Linked DNA regions of Homo sapiens: region 2 is linked to region 1. The links come from fine-mapping of genetic effects on gene expression. A gene starts in region 1. The other region holds a variant in brackets. All regions are shown on one strand. Distances are between the middles of the regions.

Evidence for each region. PIP is the estimated chance that this variant, and not a neighbour inherited with it, causes the effect.
Region 2: its variant is the best candidate, but not a certain one, in a credible set for the expression of ODF2 in cerebellar hemisphere (GTEx, PIP 0.82).

Annotation. Positions count from the first base shown.
Region 1 is chr9:128,454,439-128,458,438 of GRCh38, forward strand. It overlaps ODF2 (outer dense fiber of sperm tails 2), which reads left to right and starts at 1,568. Exons shown (of 21, transcript NM_001351578.2): 1 at 1,568-1,817. The coding sequence starts at 1,654. RefSeq lists enhancers at 641-1,377, 1,251-1,340, 1,378-2,113, 1,471-1,520, 2,114-2,849 and 1 more and silencers at 1,741-2,050, 2,181-2,280, 2,311-2,460, 2,671-2,720.
Region 2 is chr9:128,507,249-128,511,768 of GRCh38, forward strand. It overlaps GLE1 (GLE1 RNA export mediator), which reads left to right. Exons shown (of 16, transcript NM_001003722.2): 2 at 1,628-1,849. Among named protein-coding and RNA genes, the nearest start is that of GLE1, 4.8 kb to the left of the region's middle. The variant CA/C (reference allele first, on the strand shown) is at 2,710.

The DNA of each region.
Region 1 (4,000 bases):
CTCAGTTCCAATACCATCACCTCTGGGAACCATCTCCTGCCTGCCCCAGGAGGACCGGGACCTCCTTTTCCTGTCCTCTTTTCCTTGAACCTGTATATACTTTTTTTTTTTTTTTTTTTTTTTTGAGACAAGAGTCTCACTCTGTCACCCAGGCTGAAGTGTAGTGGTGATTTTGGCTCACTGCAACCTCCGCCTTCCAGGTTCAAGGAATTCTCCCTGCCTCCTCCTCCCTAGTAGCTGGGATTACAGGCACACACCACCATGCCCGGTTAATTTTTGTATTTTTAGTAGAGACGGGGTTTCGCTATGTTGGGCAGTCTGGTCTTGAACTTCTGACCTTAGGTGATCCGCCTGCCTCAGCCTCCCAAAGTGCTGGGACTACAGGCGTGAGCCACCGCAGTCTTAAATGGTTAATGAGGATTAGGAAATCTATCAATTATTCAACAGAGAGACAATGAATGGATCAAGGGATTGGGGAGCTCCCTGACATTACAGAACAAATTCAGTATGCAGTATACTGTGAAAGCGAGGCGGAAAAGCAGGTTTTGTTTGCGAGTCTGACTTTAGGATTGCAGGTGAAACACTTGTGTGACCCTGGAGCTGTGTGGCTAAGGTGCTGCGGGGTCACTGGAGAAAGGTCAAGGGACTGTGGCCCAGTTGGCCCGGAGGTGGTTCAGGTCTCCCAGATTCCAGGGCGGCATTATGAGCCACGTGACAGACCTCCCCTGACTGGCTGACAGTGAAGCATAATTGAGAAGATGGCGGACCAGCAAGGACCTCATCAGAATAGGTCTGTACACAGAGCGGCATAGAGAGTGCAGGAGGGTAGTAGACCGGGCGCGGAGGCTCAAGCCTGTAATACAAGCACTTTGGAAGGCCGAGGCGGGTGGATCATGAGGTCAGGAGATGGAGACTATCCTGCCCAACACGGTGAAACCCCGTCTCTACTAAAAATACAAAAAAAAATTAGCCGGGCGTTGTGGCGGGCGCCAGTAGTCCCAGTTACTCGGGAGGCTCAGGCAGGAGAATGGCGTGAACCCGGGAGGCGGAGGTTGCGGTGAGCCGAGATCGCGCCACTGCACTCCAGCCTGGGCAACAGAGCAAGAATCTGTCTCAAAAAAAAAAAAAAAAAAAAAAAAAAAAAAAAAAAAAAAAGTGCAGGAAGGTAGTGAACAGAACAGCAAGGGGAATGCCGACCCTTTCTCCTGTTGGGGCCAAGACAGAGGCGATGTGGGCAGGGGAGAGGCCGGGGAATGCGCAGAAGCCGACTCCATCTCCGCATTAATAGTGGACTAGGGGCAGGGCTGGATTTTCGGAGGCAGTGTGCAGCTCCCAATAACTAGTTCCATGGGTCCTCTGTGAGCCTAGTTTCCTGGTGGGTACCGAGGGGAGGGCGTCGGAACCGTACGCTCCTTTGAGTGAGGGGAATCCGGGAGGATCCAAGGCAGGGGAAACAGGGCCGAGCGGGAAAGGCCTTGAATGGGGGGCGAGACCCGGCCAGGCCCGCTGGACGCGTAGCACGTCTCCTTGGTGACGGGACGCGTGGCCCGGAAGTGGGCGGCCCTTCTGGCGGGGCGGGGCATCTCTGTGACGCTAGGGGCTGGGCCTCGATGGCGAAACCCAAGCGGCTCCCGGGGGGGTTTGAACTGGCCAATGGGCGAGCTGCCGACCGGGTGTCGGAAAAGGAGGCGGAAGCGGGGAGGAGCCGCTGCCAGAGCCAGACTGCATCCGCCGCGGCGTCTCCATGGCACGACCCTGGCCTCCGACTTCAACGACTTCATAAGGCGGCGTTTCTGGGCGCAGCCGTGTCGCTCCTGGTGAGAGGCCGCCGGCAGGCGGGATCCAGCGCCCTCCGGGGCACCGCGGGCGAGACCGTCGCCTTCGCACCCCCGGCGCGGTCGACCCCGCGGGGCCGTCGGGTCCTGGGTTCCCCGCCGCGTTGCGCTCGTCCCCCTCCTGTCAGAACCTGGGCCCCCGCCCCGCCCACCGGCGCGGGGCCTCTCCTCCTCCCGCTAACGGGCGGTCGGCCGCCTCCTTCCTCTCTTGGCTACCACGGGGCTCTGCCCCTCCTCTGCCGCCCGCGGGCAGGGCTTCACCTTTCTCTCTATGGGCAGAAACCGGTACCCTCCTGCCTGCTGGTGGGTGGCCGTCCCTTCTCTCCGCCGACAGAGGCTCTCCCTCGCTCTGCTGCCCGTCGGCGGCATCGCCCCGACCGCCTCGTCCTCTCCTCGGGCCTCCACATGGCAGTCACTTGTACGCCCTCCGTAGGCAGCGCTGTCCCCCGGGCACCGTCTCCGGCTTGCCAGGGCCCTCGCCCGGCGGGGGGGGGTCCCGCCCGCCCCCTCCCAGCCCGGCGTCTATCCTGCTCAGAACTCTGTTCGGTTTTCCCTCGCGGCGGGGCGCCCGGGGCCCGTGCAACCTCCGCGCCTCCCTCCTTTAAACACTATTGGTCCTCTCGGGCATCTGTTCTTCCGTAACGCCCCTTCTCCTAGGAGACAGTTGTCCGGCCCCGCCCCAGCATCCCCGCGGCTCCCTGCGCGGTTCTGGCCCTCTGGGGCCCACTTGGGGCCGAGCGGTTCTCACCCGCCCTCTCCGCACGTCCGCCGGCGCCTCAGGTTTCCCCCGGTAGCCACCGGCAGTCCTCCGCGTGGGACCCGGGCGCGGTGGTCCTTTCCCTCGCGGTTCTGCCCCGTCCCCTCCCCTTCCTCCCCTCTGCCCCCAGGTCGCTCAGCCTCTACTATTTCCCCCTACTTTGGCAGGACAGTTGCTGTGCGACTTGGACAGTAGAGGAGCGCCTCCCAAGTTTTCATCCAACTGCCAACCCCAAAGCTTCCACCCTTCTCCCCTCAGAGAGGACGTTTGATGCCGGGCCCCTTGAGAGGCTCATTGACAAGCCTGCCCCTCTGGGTCCCCCTGAGCAGAGCCTGCTGACCCAATTGCCCACCTTTGCGGCTTTGATGCCTAGCCATGTCTGCCTCATCCTCAGGCGGCTCCCCCAGGTATTGCCGATGTGGGAGGCGCCTGCGCCGGAGGGCAGGGAAAGGTGGCCAGGGGTCCCCAGGGCAGGCTCGCCTGAGGCTTCCAGCTTCCTCATTGTGTTTGCTGAAAGTCTGGACCAAAACGTTTAAAAATCGTTTTTAAAGGGAAGGGGGAACGAAATGTATACACAATCCTAGCTCTACCTCCCTCGCTCCTTCCCTCCCCAGATGTCACAGCTTCCTGGAAGCAAACAGGGTCACTCTTGTTGTCTTTATATAATAGAGTACTAGGTTCAGAGCCTTTTTGAAGGGAGTCGAGGTGTAAATAAATAACACGTAGGAGGTGGATGTGGCAGTTAGCAAGATAATGGAATCCAGGTGGTTTGACAAGAAACCCACTGAGAGATTTCCCAAAGCTATTGGCTTTACGTGAACAATGTTCTAAATGATTAGGGAAAAAAGCCTGTCTTCTCAGTTTTGGTATTCCTTGGCTAAAGGATCAGTAGAGGTCTATATATATATATATATTTTTTTTTTTTCCCCTCTTTTTAAAATCACGATGTAATACATATACAGCAAAACGCATACCAAAGTGCTCAAGTATTTTTTTCCTTGCATTTTGATGTTGCATTATTTTCCCCAAGTGTTTGTAAAGAGGGCAAGATGATAATTTTGGACCTCCCTGTCTCTGCCCCACCCTCCCTGCCACCCCCTGGTCGCTCCAGCCTCTCTGATCTCCCCCCACTTTGGGGGGCCAGGTGCGGTGGCTCATGCCTGTGCAATCCTAGCACTTTGAGAGGCCAAGGTGGGTGGATCACCTGAGGTCAGGAGTTTGAGACCAGCCTGACCAACATGGTGAAACCCCGTCTTTACTAGAAACATAAAAAATTAGCTGGGCATGGTGGCACACGCCTGTAATCCCAGCTACTCAGGAGCCTGGGGCAGGAGAATTGGAGAATTGCTTGAAGCCAGGAGGCAGAGGTTGCAGTAAGCCAAGATTGGGCCACTGCACTCCAGCCTGG
Region 2 (4,520 bases), 53 kb after region 1:
CACTTTGCGAGGCTGAGGCAGGACGAGTGCTTGAGGCCAGTTCAAGCTGGGAGCCAGGCTTGGTGTCTCACACCTGCAATCCCAGCACTTTGGTAAGTCAAGGTGGGCAGATCACTTGAGCCCAGAAGTTCGACACCAGCCTGGGCAATGTGGAGAAACCTCACCTCTACAAAAAATACAAAAAAATTAACCAGGTGTGGTGGTGCGTGCCTGTAGTCCCTGCTCCTTGAGAGGCTGAGGTGGGAGTATTACCTGAGCATGAAAAGTTGAGGCTGCAGTGAGCCGTGATCACGCCACTGCACTCCAGCCTGGGGAACAGAATGAGAGCCTGTCTCTCAAAAAAAAAAAAAAAAAAATAGTCGGGCGTGGTGGCTCACGCCTGTAATCCCAACACTTTGGGAGGCTGAGGTGGGTGGATCACCTGAGGTCAGGAGTTTGAGACCAGCCTGGCCAACATGGTGAAACCCTGTCTCTAGTAATAATACAAAAATTAGCCGGGTGTGGTGGTCGACACCTGTAATCCCAGCTGCTCGGGAGGCTGAAGCAGGAGAATTGCTTGAACCCGGGAGGTGGAGGTTGCAGTGAGCTGAGATCGTGCCACTGCACTCCAGCCTGGGTGACAGAGCAAGACTCCATCTCAAAAAAAAGGCTGGGCACACAGTGGCTCACGCCTGTAATCCCAGCACTTTGGGAGGCTGAGGCGGGTGGATCGCCTGAGGTCAGGAGTTCGAGACCAGCCTGACTAACATGGAGAAAACCCCGTATCTACTAAAAGTACAAAATTAGCCAGGCATGGTGGTGCATGCCTGTAATCCCAGCTACTCAGGAGGCTGAGGCAGGAGAATCACTTGAACCTGGGAGGTGGAGGTTGTGGTGAGCCAAGATCGTGCCATTGCACTCCAGCCTGGGCAACAAGAGCGAAACTCCATCTCAAAAAAAAAAAAAAAAAAGACCAGCCTGGGCAACATATCAAGACTCCATCTCTATAAAAAATGAAAAAATAATTAGCTGAATATAGTGGCGCATGCCTGTACTCCCAGCTGCTGGGGAGACTGGTTGAGGTGGGAGGATAGCTTGAGCCCAGGAGGTCAGGCTACAGTGAGCCATGATTAGGTCACTGCACTCCAGCCTGGGTAACAGAGTGAGACCCTGTCTCAAAAATAATTAATTTTAAAAATGAAAAAATATATACATCTAGGTTTGTGTAAGGATGCTTTACGATACTCGCACAATGACAAGATCACCTAACCCTGTGTTTCTCAGAACTTACCCCCATTGTTAAGTGACTGACATTCTACTGATTGTGTATACAGTAGCTTACTTCAGAATTCCTCGTGTTCTGTTCAGTGCTTTAGATTGCTTTCACATATGCTTTAGTGGGAATCTTTGTGCATTGTCCCTTTTTCTGTAGTTAGGGTTATTTAGTCTGATTTTCATTAGAAGGATAGTAGTCTAGGTCATTATCAAGAAACCACTGTACTTTGTTTTCATCTGATTGTTAATACATTACTTTGGGTCTTTGATGTTTATTTATTTAGGCCTTCTTAGATGTTCAGTAAGGCATGTAGTGGATTATACTGAGAACAGTTGACGTGTAAGTTGAGCTTAACCCTATTCTTTTCTCTAGGATGTTTTAGAAGAATGTATGTCTCTTCCCAAGCTATCTTCTTATTCTGGATGGGTGGTAGAGCACGTCCTACCCCATATGCAGGAGAACCAACCTCTGTCTGAGACTTCGCCATCCTCTACGTCAGCTTCAGCCCTAGATCAACCCTCATTTGTTCCCAAATCTCCTGACGCAAGCTCTGCCTTTTCCCCAGCCTCCCCTGCAACACCAAATGGAACCAAGGTAAGGTTGTGATCAGCTTAAGACAAAAGACATGGTGGCTGCAAAGTCAAAATGTTTAATATTGTCATATGACAGTGACCATACCCTAGGGGAAATAATGATTGCTCATTGTTGTAGCTGTTGTAGAGACAATGTTGACAGCACCATTCAGTGTTCTCTTTAGACAGATCCAGAGGGAGAAAAATCCCCTCTATTCTTAGTACCGAGAATAGTATAACTAATTTCATGAGCAATTGGATTTTTTTTTTTTTCTGATGAACGCTGCGTCTGTTTAACTGATATGGTCTCCCTTTTTGTGTTATCTGCTGGAAGAAGGCTTAGAGTGAAATGTATACCTTCTCTTTAAGTTTACATGCCTTCTCTCATTGGTTCTGTAGGAGATTTTACCCTATTCCTGGCTCTGTTTTGTCCCTGCCTCTGTTTTTTTGTTATTTCTCCCACTTAAAAATGCTAAACTGGGGCCATTTCCTCTCAGAAGACCCCTCTCTCTCACTAGAGAGAGAACTATTTTCCTTTCTCTTTCTCTTGCCTATTAAACCTCCACTCCTAAACGCAAAAAAAAAAAAAAAAGTTAAATTGGACCCAACACAGTGGCTCATGTCCATAATTCCAGTGCTTTGGAAGGCCAAGACAAGAGGATTGCTTGAGCCCAGGAGTTCAAGACCAGCCTGGGCAACATAGTGAGACCTTGTCTCTCCAAAATACTTAAAAATTGGCTAGGCATGGTGGCTCGAGCTTGTTGTCCTAGCTACTTGGGACATTGAGATGGGAGGATCACTTGAGCCCAGGAGTTTGAGACTACAGTGAGCTGTGATCAAGCCATTACATTCCAGCCTAGGCAACAGAGTGAGTCCCTATCT[CA/C]AAAAAAAGTTAAATTTTGGAAGTTTTTTAAAATTACTTTTTATATACTTCTAGAGGTAGTTTGTGTATATACAAATATACGTGAACATGTCTTCTTCTTCACCCTCCCTTTTTTTTGAGCTGAGGTCTGTCTCTGTCAACCAGGATGGAGTGCAGTGGCATGAACATGGCTCACTGCAGCCTCCACCTCCCAGGCTCAATCCACCCTCCTGTCTCAGCCTCCCGAATAGCTGGGACTGCGTGTGGACACCACCATACTTGGCTATTTTCTTTTTCTTTTTTTTTTTTGAGACGGAGTCTTGCTCTGTCCCCCAGGCTGGAGTGCAGTGACGCAATTTCAGCTCACTGCAACTTCCGCCTCCCGGCTTCAAGCGATTCTCCCACCTCAGCCTCCTGAGCGGCTGGGATTACAGGCACCCACTATCACGCCCGGCTTATGTTTGTATTTTTAGTGGAGATGGTGTTTCACCATATTGGCCTGGCTGTTCTCAAACTCCTGACCTTATGATCTGCCCACCTCGGCCTCCCAAAGTGCTGGGATTACAGGTGTGAACCACCACACCCAGGCTTTTTTTTTTTTTTTTTTTTAAGATGGAGTCTAGCTCTGTCACCCAGGCTGGAGTACAGTGGCATGGTCTCGGCTTACTGCAACCTTTGCCTCCTGGGTTCACGCGGTTCTTCTGCCTCAGCCTCCCAAGTAGCTGAGATTACAGGTGTGCGCCACCATGCCTGGCTAATTTTTGTATTCTTAGTAGAGACAGGATTTTGCCATGTTGTCCAGTCTGGTCTCAAACTACTGACCTCAGATGATCTACCCACCTCGGCCTCCCAAAGTGCTGGGATTATAGTCGTGAGCCACTGTGCCTGGCCAGTTTTTTTTTTTTTTTTCTTTTTTACATAGAAAGTATTTTTTTTCTATCTAGTAGTTCATCTTTTAAAATATTAGTCTTTAAAAAATATTCTTTGTGGCCACGTGTGGTGGCTCACACGTGTAATCCCAGCACTTTGGGAGGCTGAGGCAGGTGGATCACTTGAGATCAGTAGTTCGAGAGCAGCTTGACCACAGTGAAACCCTGTCTCTACTAAAAATACAAAATTAGCTGGGCGTCGTGGCGCACGCCTGTAATCCCATCTACTTGGGAGGCTGAGGCACTAGAATTGCTTGAACCCGGGAGACGGAGGTTGCAGTGAGCTGAGATCATGCCATTGTACTCTAGCCTGGGTAACGGAGCAAGACTCAGTCTCAAAATATATGTATATATAGAGACTGAGTAAATAATAACAACAAAATAAATAATATATATATTATAAATATACATAAATATATATATTTATGTTGATTTTGTTGTTGTTGTTGTTGCCAGAAAAGGTCTAGGTACTTTAAAATATATATTTTTAGCAACTGAACGTCTTAAGGAAAAAAAGGAACCTCCACCTAAATGTCATACCTTATATAAAAATTAACTTGGCCGGGTGCAGTGGCTCACGCCTGTAATCCCAGCACTTTGGGAGGCCAAGGCGGGTGGATCACTAGGTCAGGAGATCAAGACCATTCTGGCTAACACGGTCAAACCCCTTCTCTACTAAAAATAAAAAAAAAAATTAGGCGAGTTGGCGGGCACCTGTAGTCCCAGCTACTCAGGAGGCTGAGGCAGGAGAATGATGTGAACGCGGGAGGCAGAGCTTGCAGTGAGCTGAGATTGCGCCACTGCACACCAGCCTGGGCGACAGAGCAAGACTCCATCTCAAAAAAAAAAAAAAATTAACGTGATCATGGACTTAAACATAAAAAAAAAACTGTAAGCCTTTT